Linked DNA regions of Homo sapiens: region 1 is linked to region 2. The links come from fine-mapping of genetic effects on gene expression. A gene starts in region 2. The other region holds a variant in brackets. All regions are shown on one strand. Distances are from middle to middle.

Evidence for each region. PIP is the estimated chance that this variant, and not a neighbour inherited with it, causes the effect.
Region 1: its variant is fine-mapped to the expression of C7 in lung (TOPMed, PIP above 0.99). The same link has a PIP of 0.9 or more in adrenal gland, atrial appendage, esophagus mucosa, esophagus muscle, gastroesophageal junction and left ventricle.

What each region holds. Positions count from the first base shown.
Region 1 is chr5:40,967,461-40,975,460 of GRCh38, forward strand. C7 (complement C7) reads left to right here. Exons shown (of 18, transcript NM_000587.4): 15 at 4,943-5,134. Among named protein-coding and RNA genes, the nearest start is that of C7, 62 kb to the left of the region's middle. The variant A/G (reference allele first, on the strand shown) is at 4,649.
Region 2 is chr5:40,905,195-40,913,957 of GRCh38, forward strand. It overlaps C7 (complement C7), which reads left to right and starts at 4,303. Exons shown (of 18, transcript NM_000587.4): 1 at 4,303-4,422. The coding sequence starts at 4,417. It also overlaps the pseudogene RNU7-161P.

The DNA of each region.
Region 1 (8,000 bases), 62 kb after region 2:
CAGGCTGGATTGCAATGGAGTGATCTTGGCTCCAATCTTCACACCATATTTTGGCAGTTCATGTGCATACACTGCACAGACTATCACGTTCCCTTCTACACAGGTCTAAGCAATCTGACAAATGATAACTCTGTTTGTTACATAAAATATCATCCTGTATTTGGGTGTGCTGTATTTATTTTTATCCTGTATCACCAAGCATTTCCGAACATAGTGATCAGTTTTACCCTCTTGTCATCTTCTAAATTTCACTTAGTATCTTTTAAAGTAGGCCTTATTATTAACAACTTTAACAAACCCCATCCTGTGGGACAGAGACCTGCGTTTGTGGCTTGACAGAGACCTGCAGGCCCAGTAGTGCTGGGGTGGGAAAAGGGTATTATTAATTGTTTTTTGCTTTTGGTTTTCTCCAGCAACTTTACTCTGATGTCTAGGTATAATTTTCTTTATATTTTTCTGGGCTTTTATTGAACCTGTGCTTTAAGTCTTTTGTCAGTTTTAGACCATTTCTTGACCATTATGTCCTAAAACATTGCTTCTGTCCCATTCTTCCTCACTTGTCCTTATGGGACACAAATTATACATTTTTTGGACCATTATATTTTTTAACATCATTTTTTTGTTTGTTTTCCATCTTTTCCCCCTCTGTTTCATTCTAAATATTTTCTTTTTCTTTTTCTTTTTTTTATTTGAGATGGTTTGTTTTCCAGGCTGGAGTGCAGTGGTGCGATCTCGGCTCACTGCAACCTCCGCTTCCCAGGTTCAAACAATTCTCCTGGCTCAGCCTCCTGAGTAGCTGGAATTACATGCATGCAGCACTGCATCTGGCTAATTTTTGTATTTTTAGTAAAGATGAGGTTTTGCCATGTTGGCCAGGCTGGTCTTGAATTCCTGACCTCAAGTAATCTGCCTGTCTGGGCCTCCCAAAGTGCTGGGACTACAGGCATGAGCCACCGCACCTGGCCTCATTCTAAATATTTTCAACTGACCTATCTTCCAATTTATTAATTCTCTGTATATTTCTGTATAATCTCCTTTTAAGAACTCTATTATAGAGTTTTAAATTTTATCAATTTTATTTTTCAACTTAAAACAATTATATATATTTTATATATATATATATATATATATATATATATATTTTTTTTTTTTTTTTTTTTTTTTTTTTTGAGACAGATTTTACTCCTGTCACCCATGCTGAAGTGCAGTGGTGCAATCTTGGCTCACTGTAATCTCTGCCTCCTGGGCTCAAGCAATTCTCCTGCCTCAGCCTCCTGAGTAGCTGGGATTATAGACGCTTGCCACAGTGCCCAGCTAATTTTGTACTTTTTAGTAGAGACGGGGTTTCACCATGTTGCCGTGGCTGTTCTCAAACTCCTGAGCTCAAGTGATCTGCCTGCTTCAGTCTCCCAAAGTGCTGGGATTATAGGTGTGAGCCATCGTGCCTGGCTATTTTTCAATTTTAGAGGTTTCATTTGTCTACTTTTTTACTGCATAGTGAATTTTTAAATTAATAACTTCATTTTTAGAGCAGTTTTAGCTTACAAAAAACTGACTAGAAAGTACAGAGAGCGCCCATCTACTTCCTTACTTCCCGCCCAGTTTCCCTATTAGGTATTAACATCTTCCATTAATGTGGTATATTTATTATAATGAATGAGCCTATATTCTTACATTATTATATTTAAAAATATTAAAATTTTTCACTTAAAATATAGTTTTTAAGCGATGTTTTGATATGTGTAAACAGTGTGTAATAAGCAAATCAGAGTAAATAACATCAATTACTTCAAACATTTATGTTTACTGTTTTATATTTTCTAATTCTCTGTTGTAATTCTCCATCTTGTCATTTAAAAAAATATATTAATTTCAGTTGTTTCAGGGCCTGTATCTGTTAATTTCATTCTTTAGGTAAGTCTGTTACTGTAAGTCTGTTTCTATTGTTTTTTTTGGTTGGAATTTGGTCAATTCTTGTCTTTTTGAATGTTAAATTAGTTTTAATTGAATGTCAGACTTTACGTATGAAAATTTAAAAATTGGATGATGCTATCTTCCTCTAGAGAAGACTAACTTTTGTTTATGGCAACCAGTGAGGCTGGCTTATGTCTGGGTTATCTCTATTCCAAGGATGTGGCCATTAAGGGATTCCAACTGAAGGTATGGGCTTTCTACCTGGCCCCTTCTTTTTGACAGGACTGGACTCTAGTTTTTAAAACCCTGGTCCTGTGAGACTGCTAAAAGCTGTTTATCTTTTTAGCCTCTGAGCTATGGTTTTCTCTTCAGTTTAGCAGCCTTTCAGCATATTTTCTTTTTTTTTTTAATTTACAAATACCTCAAGGAAAAATGTGTTACCAAATGTAAATGTAATCACCACATTAGACTTCCCTTCTCTCTGAAATCTTGGACTTTCAAACTTGCACTGCCTTGTTAGTGCTCTGATTCTTTCAGAAATAGTTTTCCTTTTAATTTTGTACAGTCTTTCTATTTTTTTTGTCTTGGTAGGAGATTTAATGTGAAAACAGCAAACGCATTAGAAACAAGCAGATTCAATACTAGATTATGAAGTTTTGGAAGGCATAAGATGTGACTTGTACTTTGCTGTGTCCCAAGCAGTGCACAACATATTTGGCAAAATATAGGCATTCAAAAAGTGCTGTGGATTTTTGTATATATTCATGGAGTATTAGCTCAATTTTGCTACACTGATATATCTCATTGTGATGAAGTCAAAGCTTTCAGTGCATCCATCAAATGCTGTTTTTGAATGAATAAATGAATGAATGGGTTTTCTGATGACAGTGCTGTAAAGATACAGCAATACTTTGTAGAATATTGTCCAAAGTCCATTAGGGATATTAGCAAGATTTTTTTTTTAATCATGAATTCTGACTTGCTGTTTATACTATGTGTGTTTTTTCTTTTTCTCTGTTCTTTTTTGAAGTAAGCTATTTGAGCTAATGAATGTAATTGAGTAAGAAAGAATACAGATGAAAAGTCAGGGAACACTGAACACTTTTATGTCTGCAAGTTTAAAGGTGGTGCTTTAGCTGGGTGTGGTGGCATGTGCCTGTGATCCCACCTACTCAGGAGGTTGAGTCAGGAGGATTGCTTGAGCCTAGGAGTTTTTAATTTTTTTTTTAATTTTACTTTAAGTTCTGGGATACATGTGTTGAATGTGCAGGTTTGTTACATAGGTATATATGTGCTATGGTAGTTTGCTGCATCTATCAACCCATCATCTAGGTTTTAAGCCTCGCATGCATTAGGTATTTTTCCTAATGCTTTCCCTCCCCTTGCCCCCCATCCCCTGACAGGCCACAGTGTGTGATGTTCCACTCCCTGTGCCCATGTGTTCTCATTGTTCAACTCCCACTTATGAGTGAGAACATGCATTTTCTGTTCCTGTGTTAGTTTGCTGAGGATGATGGTTTCCAGCTTCATCCATGTCTCTGCAAAGGACATTAACCCGTTATAGTATTCCATGGTGTATATGTGCCATATTTTCTTTATCCAGTCTATCATTGATGGGCATTTGGGTTGGTTCCAAGTCTTTGCTATTGTAAGTAGTGCTGCAATAAACATACGTGTGCATGTGTCTTTACAGTAGAATGATTTATAACCCTTTGGGTATATACCCAGTAACGGGATTGCTGGGTCAAATGGTATTTCTGGTTCTAGATCCTTGAGGAATTGCCATACCGTCTTCCACAATGATTGAACTAGTTTACACTCCTACCAATAGTGTAAAAGCGTTCCTATTTCTCCACATCCCCACCAGCATCTGTTCTTTCCAGACTTTTTAATGATCACCATTCTAACTGGCGTGAGATGGTATCTCATTGTGGTTTTGATTTGCATTTCTCTGGTGACCAGTGATGATGAGCATTTTTTCATATGTTTGTTGGCTGCATAAATGTCTTCTTTTGAGAAATGTCTGTTCATATCCTTTGCCCACTTTTTGATGGGGTTGCTTGTTTTTCTGTTGTAAATTTGTTTAAGTTCCCTGTAGATTCTGGATATTAGCCCTTTGTCAGATAGATAGATTACAAACATTGTCTCCCATTCTGTAGGTTGCCTGTTTACTCTGATGATAGTTTCTTTTGCTGAGCAGAAGCTCTTTAGTTTAATTAGATCCCATTTGTCAATTTTGGTTTTTGTTGCAATTGTTTTTGGTGTTTTAGTCATGAAGTCTTTGCCCATGCTTATGTCCTGAATGGTATTGCATAGGTTTTCTTCTAGGGTTTTTATGGTTTTAGGTTTTACATTTAAGTCTTTAATCCATCTTGAGTTAATTTTTGTATAAGGTATAAGGAAGGGGTCCAGTTTCTGTTTTCTGCATATGGCTTGCCGGTTTTCCCATCACCATTTATTAAACAGGAAATCCTTTCCCCATTGCTTTTCTGAGCCCAGGAATTTGAGGCTGTAGTATACACTGATTAGACCTATGAATAATCACTGCTCTCCAGCCTGGGCAACAAGACAGACCCTGTCCCTAAAAAATAAAAATAAATAAATAAATAAAAGTGGTGTTTTAATAATTTCAGACGGCAAAATATCCAACTGGATGAAAGTTAATGAAACTCTCCTGGTGGAACATCACTAGAGCACATAAATAAGTGACAGCTGTGAAAAGTTTGGTTTCAAC[A/G]GTAGGCTGGGCATTAGGACTCTATTGGGGTTGTTCATTTTAAGTTGTCACATTGTTTTGAGGGGAGGGGTGGGAGAGGGGGAGCTGTTTTGGTTTTTAGATATTCATGGGTCAATTACGTGCCAGGCTCTGTGTGACATGTCTTTCAGTCCACCCTAACAGTGAACTTACGTCTTCCTCCTTGTCCTCTAATATGAAAAAGCAGAACAAGTGTGTCTGCATCACATAAGACTTTTTTAAAAAGATGGTTTAGGAGAGCAACGACCCTTATATTTTGCTCTCTTTTATCTTTAGAAATTGCCTGTGTTCTACCTGTACTGATGGATGGCATACAGAGTCACCCCCAAAAACCTTTCTACACAGTTGGTGAGAAGGTGACTGTTTCCTGTTCAGGTGGCATGTCCTTAGAAGGTCCTTCAGCATTTCTCTGTGGCTCCAGCCTTAAGTGGAGTCCTGAGATGAAGAATGCCCGCTGTGTACAAAAAGGTGAGTGGCTTCCATGTCTATCCAAGGACACTTGTACCCAGGCAAGTGAGAGTCCTTGTGGCGACCTTCATGGTACTGTATCACCATAGCTGTGAGTCATTCCCTCCATTCTTGCTCCTTAAGATAGGGTCAGTTTGTAGACTGAGTAACAGATTTTCTTCACATGGCACAGAAAGACTCATGAAAGCAAGGAAAGGCAAGGATAGCCTGGTGATTCTGAAACTTTTAACTTAAATCATCCTTGTGAAAGATTAGCTTTATATCTGTTATGGTGCCAAGACAATAAAGGATTTTTAAAATCTGTTTTTTGTTTGTTTGTTTGTTTCCTCTAGATTTTTTTCCCCTGCATTTTTCATAAGTACAGAGTTGAGATCATAATTTATTTAAAGTTCTGTATGTTTCATTTTTGGGCTTTCAAAGAGTTTATCAGTATTTCTGAAATTGAAAATTTAGAAAGCATTTTCATTTAACACTTTAAAGCAGACATTATTGAAGGAAAAGTGTTGTGATTCATGAAATTGTTCTTAATGTGGAAACCCAAAAATCCAGTATTTTAACACCAAGAAAATTAAAATGGTCTTTTAAGAACCTAAGGTAGAAAGGATTTAGAAAGCCAAATTATTTCTTTTTAGAGGTAATTTTAGATGAGATAGATTTGTTTGACAATAACCCCTTATTTATTCTTTGTTTACATTTTTTAAATAAATGGAAAATATTGTATTTGTAACAAAAATGAGAATGAAGAAAAACTCACTTGCATACTATTTTATGTGATATTATCTCTCTAGTATGTGATTTTTAATTAAACGCTGAAATTTATTTTTAATAGTGAGGATGAAGTACTAGATTTCACAGGTGATGGTGTGAGGTGAATTAGATGTTTCTAACTAAGTTCTCCATGCGACAGGGTATGGAGCACTCAGATACTGATGGTAGATATGGGCTGTGATGTGAAGTGGATGAGAGGCAGAACAATAGGCAAGACACACGTCCTTGGAGTGCCCTCCCTGCCTGTCCTGATGTGCTGTTAAGTTATCAAAGCTCCATCTCAGAGGACAGTTGTTTTGTGTTCTGTAAACACTGAAGTATAAACATGAGTTTACTTGGAATATTTAAAGTCATGGACCAGTACTTACAATTCTAAAAATGAAAGAGAACAATATACAGTTGATGAGGTTGCACTTTTGGTTCAAATGAGATTGTAGACTAGTCTGTCTAAAATGCTACTTCAGCTATTTTACAGCACAGTTTGGTATGAAGTTTCATTTACCCAGTAGAAAATTCTATTAAAGTGGGTTTTAATTAAGGATGTTTTTCAGATCTGTGTGTTTTTCTGAAGATGTGAATAACAGTAACTACTTCTAAGCCTATAACAAACAAAAAAATCCAAGACTTACCAGCTTCCAAAGTTGATGTTTTAAAATGTTGGCTGTTCTAGTATTTAGTCTTTTTTTTTATTATAATAAAGCATACATAACATAACATTTACCATTTTATCCATTTTTAAATGTATGTTCAGTGGCATTAAGTAATTCCCATTGTTGTGCAACCATCACCACATTTTTTTTCATCTTTCCAAACTGAAGCTCTATATCCATTAAACATTAATTCCTCACTTTCCCCTACTGTCCCCGTAGTTAGTCTTGATGGGAATAAATTTGCTTTTAAAATAGCAAAAGCACATACTTTCGGTGGGCCTTAAGAGTGTGTTTACTTGGTTAACCAAGCTGTAAAGGCAACAAAGCTATGTTCTTCTTAAATGCAAAAATTCTTTGGGCTAGGTAATTCTATCGTTTTTTTTTTTTTCCACAAAGACATTATAATACATTTTTTTTTTTTGAGATGCAGTCTCGTTCTGTCACCCAGGCTGGAGTGCAGCGGCACAATCTCAGCTCACTGCAAGTTCTGCCTCCCGGGTTCACACCATTCTCCTGCCTCAGCCTCCTGAGTAGCTGGGACTACAGGTGCTCGCCACCATGCCCGGCTAATTTTTTTTTGTATTTTTAGCAGAGACGGGGTTTCACCATGTTAGTCAGGATGGTCCCGATCTCCTGACCTCATGATCCGCCCGCCTCGGCCTCCCAAAGTACTGGGATTACAGGCGTGAGCCACTGCGCCCGGCTTGACATTATAATAGTTTAAGCAAACTTTTAAAATCTAAAATTTCAGGATTTGTCCTAAAGTAAATTTTTAACCACAGTGCAGAACTAATTTACATGGCTTGATCATTGACCTTAAGTTTTGGTACATCTAGATTAAGGCTTCTCAACCTCAACGCTATTGGAATTTTAGGTCTAATAATTCTTTGCTATGGGAGCCTCTTCTGTGCATTGCAGGGTGCTTAGCAGCATCCCTGGTCTCTACCCAACAGTAGCATCCTCCTATGTCAATAACATTCTGCAGTTGTAAAAACCAAAGATGTCCCTAGTGATTTCCAGATGTCCCCTGGGGGACAAAACTGCCCCTGGTTGAGAAGCACTGATGTAGATAATACCATTTTTAAAAAATTTCATTTTGGAATAATTTTAGATTTCAGCAAAGTCACAGATATAATTTCTACACACCCTTCACCCATCTTCCTTAATATTAACATCTTACATAACACAACTTGGTTAAAACTAAAAAATTAATATTAGTACAATGCTATTGACTAAACTATACACTTTATTCAAATACCTCATGTTTTACCACTAATGTCTCTTTTATGTTCTAGGGTCCAGTTCAGGGTACTACGTTGCATTTAGGATAATACCATTTTAAAGAGAAGTGTGCTTTTTTTTTTTTTTTGAGACAAGGTCTCGCTTGTCCAGGCTGGCTGGAGTGCAACGGCGCAATCTTGGTTCACTGCAACCTCCACCACCCGGGC
Region 2 (8,763 bases):
TGTTTGAAGAGCTGCCAAGGGAGGTGAGGGCAAATGGGGAAGAGCTGGTGTCACAGGAGATGAGGAGAGGGCTGTGCCCTTATTGACCCTTCCCCAGTCTGGCAGAAATCTGCTTTATCCTTCTACTGATTTAGCTTTGGCTCAGACACCATTTATTTGCCAAAGCATGCCCATATACCAGTTTTGGGGTTTGTTAGAAATAAAAGTCCAGGGGGTCACATGAACTTGAGAAATTCTGGGTTGAAAAAGTTAAAAAAGTTTTACTTGTTACAGAACTTTCAGAACATTTAATTTACAATGCACTGTGCTTTGCAAATCCAAGCTGGGCATTTGCTGGGAGTAATTGTTGACTGGGTTCTTCATCTTGAAATTCTCCTGAATTGGCTTGATGTTGCACTGTTTTGGTTTTTCTTCTTTTTCTGTAACCTCTCCTTTTTGGGACTTTTTTTCTTCTTACTCCTGAACAGGGGCATTTCTTGTGGTTTTATGGTTCATTATGTTCAGTCTCTAGAAGATTCACTGAAGTCCATGATTTTAGTTAGATACCTCCATGCTAGCAGCTCCACCCATGTCCCCCTCCAAGAGACATAGGTGAAGCCTGTCTCTTCCCAAAGAGACCTCCATTATATGTTGGATGCTTTCCCCAAAGTAAAAATGTCCCCTCTCCAAAACCATCTCTTCCTTTTTGACTTCTAATTTTCTTCCTCCTTTAAATTTTTCTTAAATTCTTTCAATTCTCTGAGTCAATCAGACTTGAAACCATATTTAATCACTAAACCCTGTGAATTCTTCTGCCTTTTTTGTCTTTCCTTTTTTTTTTTTTTTTTTCCTGGGACAACGTCTTGCTCTGTTGCTCAGGCTGGAATGCAGTGGTGCCATCTTGGCTCACTGCGACCTCTGCCTCCCAGGTTCAAGTGATTCTCCTACCTCAGCCTCCCAAGTAGCTGGAATTACAGTTGTCCACCATGTTGTCCAGGGGTTGTCACCATGTTGGCCAGGCTGGTCTTGAAATCCTGACCTCTCCAGTGATTCACCTGCCTCGGCCTCCCAAAGTGCTGGGATTACAGGTGTGAGCCATCGTGCCCAGCCCCTTCTTTTTTTGTTGTTTCTGTTTTTGTTTTTGTTTTTGAAACAAGGCATTGCTCTGTCACCCAGGCTGGAGTGCAGTGACCTGCTCATAACTCACTGCAGCCTCAACCTTCTGGGCCACCTCAGCTTTCTGAGTAGTTGAGACTACAGGCATGTGCCATCATGCCCAGCTAATTTTTGTGTTTTTTGTAGAGACAGCTGTGTCAATCCCTTTTTAAATGAGGCCTTGATCCCCTTGTCTAAACTACTGAAATAAATTCCAAGTCACGCTTCCTGCTTCCTTTCCTTACCTATTCTATGTAGGCTGCACACAGCTACTGTTTCAATCAATCTAAAACACTGCTTTGATTCTTTCTTAAAAACTTCCAGTGGGTGAATTCTCAGTGACTCATTGTGTGAATAAAGTCCATACAACTTATGCTAGCAGTAAAACTTCCCACAGTGTTGCTCCCACCTGCATTTAAAGCCTTTGTGCTAATGGTTCCTCCATTAAAATTGCAGACAGAAGAAATGCTCTTGTGATGTTACAGATATGAAGGTAGGAGTGTGCAAGGCAATTGGGGAAAGGAAGTTTCTGTAACCCTTTCAGAATTGAATGATCTATGGGATACCTGAGCTGAACAATTCAAGTTCTAAATTACTATAAATATATCCAAATCATCCTCTAGATTAAGGATATTCTGTAAATGGGCTAATACGGTCCTTTATAGCATGTAAAGAACAAAAATAAGGAAGGATATAGCTTAAGGCTTCTACCTGTCAAAGCTGATAGCCTATCATATTACACATTTTAGAAAATATTGATCAAATTCAGGATGAAAAAATTAATACATGCATGTATATATAAATAAAAAGCTACTGTAGCAGATGCTGTTGGTACCCTACCCATATTCCTTCATCGCTCGCCTCTAAATGACAAAGGTAAACACCTGCAAATATTGCAAATGCTACAATTCCCTGCTTGAAAACCTTTACTTATGGCTGCAGGCGTGTGCTTAGCTTGCCCCCAGGGCAAGCTGGTAGTGCCAGAGAGCCAATGGGTTCAGAAGCTACCTTCATCATCAGCGATGGGTTTCCTTACCCCTTAATTGGACTAACTCTTTTTTTTTTTTTTTTTTTGGGGGACAGGCTCTCGCTCTGTCACCCAGGCTGCTCTTCAGCAGTGCAGTCTCTTCAGTGGTGCAATCTCACTTCACTGCTGCCTCTGCCTCCTGGGTTCCGGTGATTCTCGTGCCTCAGCCTCCTGAGTAGTTGGGATTACAGGCATGAACCACCATAACTGGCTTTTTTTTTTTTTTGTATTTTTAGTAGAGATGGGGCTTCACCATCATGGCTAGGCTGGTCTTGAACTCCTGACCTCAAGTGATCCACCCACCTCAGCCTCCCAAAGTGCTGGGATCACAGGTGTGAACCACCACACCTGGCTGGACTAACTCTTAATTGCAGAGTTCGTGTGCAATGTCTTTCAGAGTTCCTCATTAGAACTGAACTCAAATTGCCCACTGGAGTCTCTTGCTTGATAAAACACCCTTTATTGACTTTCTTTTCTCCCCAATCTCACTTTCCCACTTCCAGTGGTGCTTTCTAAGATTATCTCTTAAAACAAAAACAAAAACAAACTACTTGCAATTGAATTCTTGTTTCTGAATCTACTTCTGGGGGAACCCAAACTAAGAGAGCCGCTGAAATGGAATTGTATATTGAGAATTTAAGATGAGTCTATGGCATCTGGAATTTATGCAGTTGGAGCTGAATAAAAAATATTTCTTTCAGGAGTCAGGATCTTTGTCTCTGTGACAAAATTTCTTCCACACAAATCACTAAAGCTTTGAACAAAAGATGCGGAAGCTTTGTCTCTGGAAACCACCATTAATTTATGAGGGGAGGATAGGGGTTGTCTTTATTATTCCAGTGCTTTGGATATAGGAAGAAAAAGTCATTAAAGCTAGAAAATCTTCACTAATGGAATGTTTACTTATAAAATTATTCTTAACTCAAATTTTCTTTCCCGCTTAACATTTATTCTACCTCACTCATAATGCACTAGCAGCTAGTGTTAGAATATTTGGTCCAACAATACAAATAAAACTGTAGCTCAATTTTTTTTTTTTTTTTTTTTTTGAGATGGAATCTCACTCTGTCTCCCAGGCTGGAGTGCAGTGGTGCGATCTCAGCTCACTGCAACCTCCGCCTCCTGGGTTCAAGTGATTCTTCTCTCTCAGCCTCCTGAGTAGCTGGGACTACAAGTGCATGCTACCATGCCTGGCTAATTTTTTTGTGTTTTTAGTAGAGACGGGGTTTCACTGTATTGTCCAGGCTGGTCTCGAACTCCTGACCTCTTGGTCCGCTCGCCTTGGCCTCCCAAAGTGCTGGGATTACAGGCATGAGCCACCGCGCCTGGCCAACTGTAGCTCAGTTTCAATAGGAAATCTAAAATCTTGCAAAATAAGCAGCATTTTATTAAATGTATGAAGGTGATGTTGGGGACTTGCTAGAATCAATGCAAAGCTATGGGAAAATAAAGACCTGGTAGAATAAGACAAGATAAAAAGCAAAGGAGAGAAAATGGATGTGGATAATGACCCTGAGAAGAACTTTCCAACACAGTGATCTGATTATCAAAGGATTAAGTGAAGTTCTTGAGAAAATTAGTGATGTCCTCAAATATGTTTACAAAAATTGATATTCTTTCTGATTATTCTGTGAAAGTTAAGCATGAAGGGATGACTATTGGGTTGTATTAGGCTGTACTTTGGGGAAAAATTCTACTCCAGAACATTCTATTTAGATTTTGAGTGACAGAACTGCATTTAAATATTTTCTTTCATAAAATATTTAATCTCAAAGTCTGGCATATAACACCTTTTAAGAGAATCATGAAAACATCCACTTAGTTTAGTAGATTGAAACAAGAAGGAGGCTCATCCCTTGCCTTACAGAGTCTCCTTTGGTTGAAAATCACTTAAACATTGAACTGAGAACATTTGCTGTGTTTCCTGATTTATAGATATGTTTCTAAGAAACATATCTATAACTTCCAAACAGTCCCAGCTGGCTGTAGCTAAGGCTGTGTAATTGATAAGATGCATCTGGTTTCAAGGCACAGATTAAGTACAAGGTCAGGCTCTTGCTGTCGTTGGAGAATCCGGTTGGGGTAGGAGCTAAATCTCAGGACCACTTGCTCTATATATGAGTGCCAAGATAATCTAGAGCAGGGAGAGGCAGAGAGGCAGGCAGCCTGCTGGGCTCTTCCTGCTGTTGAAAACTTACCCGGCCCTTACAGAGGAAATCTTCCTCCTCTCTTCTGCCCTGAATGTTTTCCCAAACATGAAGGTAAGACAATAAATTCATTACTTTTGTAAATGAAGCTATCTTTTCAAATGAACGGGGGTAATATAAATGTAATTTAAACGAAGAGGTGTAATACCTAACTGAAAGACATCAAATAAATAGAAGGCCAGAGGAAAATACAGAAGAAAAAGACCTGGGGGTGATGTTTAGAAATCCTTATTTAAACATATTTAACAGTTCAGCCAAAGTGAATTCCTTTTTCTTATCTTGTGGTGAAATTATAGGTCCAGAGGTCTGGGAATCAGGAATTGGAGACAATGTTTATGAAAGTCCCGATAAAGTCATAAAGAAATACAATAGTACTATTGTTATTTCTTGGGAAAAACTTTCCTCTGGTGTATTTTTTTTTTTTTTTTTTGCTTGTTTGGATTAGGAGCCATGCAGTAGGGTCCTGCGATTTATCTAAGAGCTAATAGAAAAGCAAATTTGCAGGCTTGGAACTTGAGAATTTGAAATCCTGGATGAAAGAGTCAGCATTGTGAGAATAGAAGATATGAGTAGATGGAATAAAACTAAAGGTCTACCAAGTATACATGTTGGCCCAATGCAAAAAGGCCAAATATTAAAAAACAAAACAAAACACAACCAAAAAGCTATTCAACAAAAGATAAGACCAAAGATAGAAATCGCTATCATAGACTAAATCTCTGGAATGCAAAAATAAGTTGAGATTGCTATTCAAATTTTATTATTGTAAATTTTGGTATTTAAACTTTAAAAATGTTGCATTGTAAGACTGTAGGAATAATTTCACAGATCTGTCAGTGGCTAGATTGCTTCCATAGTCACTGTATTGTCCATTGGGGCACCGAATCCAAGCTCGCTCATTATTGGGGTTAGAGGAGGAGCAAGATATGGATCTTGATTAAGCCATGCCTTCTGTGAAATTAAATAATTAAAATTAAACACAAATAACAAAGTTAATTTGTTTAAAGTTATGATGGGCAGTCATAAAAAAGAATGAAATCATGTCCTTTGCAGCAACATGGAGGCAGATAGAGGTCATTATCCTAAGAAAATTAACGCAGGAACAGACAATCAAATACCCCATGTTCTTAATTTTTAAGTGGGAGCTAAATATTGGGTACTCATGGGCATAAAGATGGCAACACTAGACACTGCACTCCAGCCTGGGCAATAAGGTGAGACTCTCTCTCAAAAAAAAAAAAAACAAAAAAAAAACAAGAAAAGAAAATGATGCTCTTCTGAAAGTTATCTAGCCAAAATGTTTTTTCCTAATATTTGTGTTAACTATTAATCTTTTACTTTATTTTACAATAAGAAATCTTAATAATTGCTTTGTGCTTAAAAACATGTTTACAATCATTATTATAATATTTTACTGCTGTAATAATAAATATACTTCTATCCTTTAATTAGTTGACAAAATATCAACAAATAAAGCAATTAATTTTTTAAAAATTTTACATATAGGGGCTTTCCAGCAAAAATTGGGAAGCCTGATAGACAAGTTCTAAAACAACTGTAACACTAAAGCAATTATTTCACTCCAAGTCGCATGTAGAGTTCTTACCTGTATTTGAAAGTGGACATTCATATTTTTACAGTAAACCTGAAGGACATGCTTTGGTGATATGTGACAAAGAAGGGACACTTGTGAAAGCCTTGGGCTATCAAGAAGCTAGAAATGGTTTCTATGTCAGACTTTTTAAGAGGAAGCAATGTTTTGGCCCCACAGCCCCCACGTGAACTAAATTCAGAGAGACAGTCACAGGATTCCCTTTGGTTCTCTCTGTGTTCTTGGATAGGAAATAACTTGGATCTGAGGTGTTGGAGAAGGATGTCAGGGACAAGGGACTTCCCTCGGAGCTGGCTGTGGCCCAGCCATTTGTTCCGTCCCTCCAGGAGAGAGCTGAGCTTGGGGCCTGTGAATCTAGGGAATGGTCGTCACAGTGCCCAAGCACAGTGATGGTCAAGCACAGTAATGTCTCAAATCAGGATTGTAGCTGGGACATACTGGAAGAAGGAGGTAGAGCTAATGCTCATTCATTGATGATAAAGAGGAGAAGATAATTCAGGGGAATGTAGTTCCAGCTTAGCTACATTGACACAGAACAAAAATACCACACACTTTTTCTTTCTTTCTTTTTTTTTTTTTTTTGAGACAAAGTCTCACTCTGTTGCCCAGGCTGGAGTGCAGAGGTACGATCTCTGCTCACTCCAACTTCCGCCTCCTGGGTTCAAGCGATTCTTCTGCCTCAGCCTCCTGAGTAGCTGGGGCTACAGGCGTGCGCCACCATGCCTTGCTAATTTTTGTATTTTTTTTTTTTTTTTAGTAAAGATGGGGTTTCACCATATTGGCCAGGCTGGTCTTGAACTCCTGACCTCATGATCCACCTGCCTTGGCCTCCCAAAGTGCTGGGATTACAGGCATGAACCACCACGCCCGGCCCCACATACTTCTTCAACCAAGCAATTCTTTTATAGAGTCAGTTCAGATGTATGTCTATCACTGTCATTCACATGATTTATTTGTGTTTGTTCTATCTCTCTTGTTCATTTATAAGGTATTTTTTCCAAAGGTAATTATCCTAAGGCTAGCCAAATTTCAAGAAATGCTTTTGGTTAGTAGATTCACTTTGTATAACATGAACAGAACTGGTCTTGTAATAAGCAGACCTTGATGGGTTATAATGAGTATGTATATGAAGAAGGTGATGACAAAGGCATCCATGATGATAAAAAGTATATTTCCTAAAATTTCATTGAAATTCTTTATTTTAAAAAATGCTTTTAAATTTGAGACAAGATCTTGCTCTGTTGCCCTGGCTGGAGTGTAGTGGTACAATTATGGCTCACTGCAGCTGCTACATCCTGGGCTCAAGTGATCCTCCCACCTTAGTCTTCTGAGTAGCTGGGACTACAGGTGCCCGCCACCATGCCTGGCTAATTTTTGTATTTTTTGTTGCAACAGGCTGGCCTCAAATTCCTGGGCTCAAGTGATCCTACCACTTTGTCCTCCCCAAATGCCAGGATTACAGGCATGAGCCACCAAACCTGGCTGAAATTATTTTAAAACACCTGTGACAGAATGTTAGAAATAATTATTTTCATTATCCACATTTTGGCTGAGAGTCAAAGGCCAAGAACAAGTACTCAAGATTTTTTGAAATTTTATGGTTTTTTTTGGAAATTTTATTCATTTAGTTATTTTATTTGTATACATTTAAGGGGTACAAGTGCAATTTTGTTACATGGATATATTGGGTAGTGTTGAAGTCTGGGCTTTCAGTGTATCTATCTTCCAAATAATGTACATTGTACCCATTAAGTAATTTCTCATCACTCTTCCCCTTTCTATCCCCAACTCTTCTGAGTCTCCAATGTCTATTATTCCATACTTTTTGTCCATGTGTACACATTATTTAGCTCCTACTTGTAAGTGAGAATATGAGGTACTTGATTTTATGTTTCTAAGTTGTTTCACTTAATATAATGGCCTCTAGTTCCATCCATGCTGCTGCAAAAGACATGGTTTCATTCTTTTTTAAAAAATTGAACAGTATTTCATTGTGTATATACTGCATTTTCTTTATCCAATCATCTGTTGTTGGACACTTAGGTTGCTTCTATATCTTTGCTATTGTGAATAGTGTTGAGATAAACATACGAGTACGGGTATCTTTCTGATATAATGATTTCTTTTCCTTTGGGTAGATACCCAGTAGTGGGATTGATGGATCCGATGGTAGTTCAATTTTTAGTTCTTTGAGAAATCTCCATACTGTTTTTTATGGAAGTTGTACTAATTTACATTCCCACCAATAGTATATATTGGTGGGAATATATACTATTCCCTATTCTCACTTATCTCTGCATTCCTACCAACAACTGTTATTTTTTGACATTTTTAAAGAGAGATGGTGTCTTGCTCTGTTATCCAGGCTGGAGAGTAATGGTGCAATCATAGCTCACTGCACCTTTGAATTCCTGGGCTCAAGTGATCCTCCTGCTTCAGCCTCCTGAGTAGCTGGCACTATCTGGGCATGTGCCACCATGTGCAAATATATATATATGTATATTTTGTATATTTATATATTTTAAGATGGAGTCTTGCTCTGTCACCCAGGCTGGAGTGCAGTGGCATGATCTCGGCTCACTGTAATCTCCACCTCCTGGGTTCAAGCGATTCTCCTGCCTCAGCCTCCCAAGTAGCTGAGACTACAGGTGCGTGCCAACATGCCTGGTTAATTTTTTGTATTTTTAGTAGAGATGGGGTTTTACCGTGTTAGTCAGGATGGTCTTGATCTCCTGACCTCATGATTTGCCCGCCTCAGCCTCCCAAAGTGTTGGGATTACAGG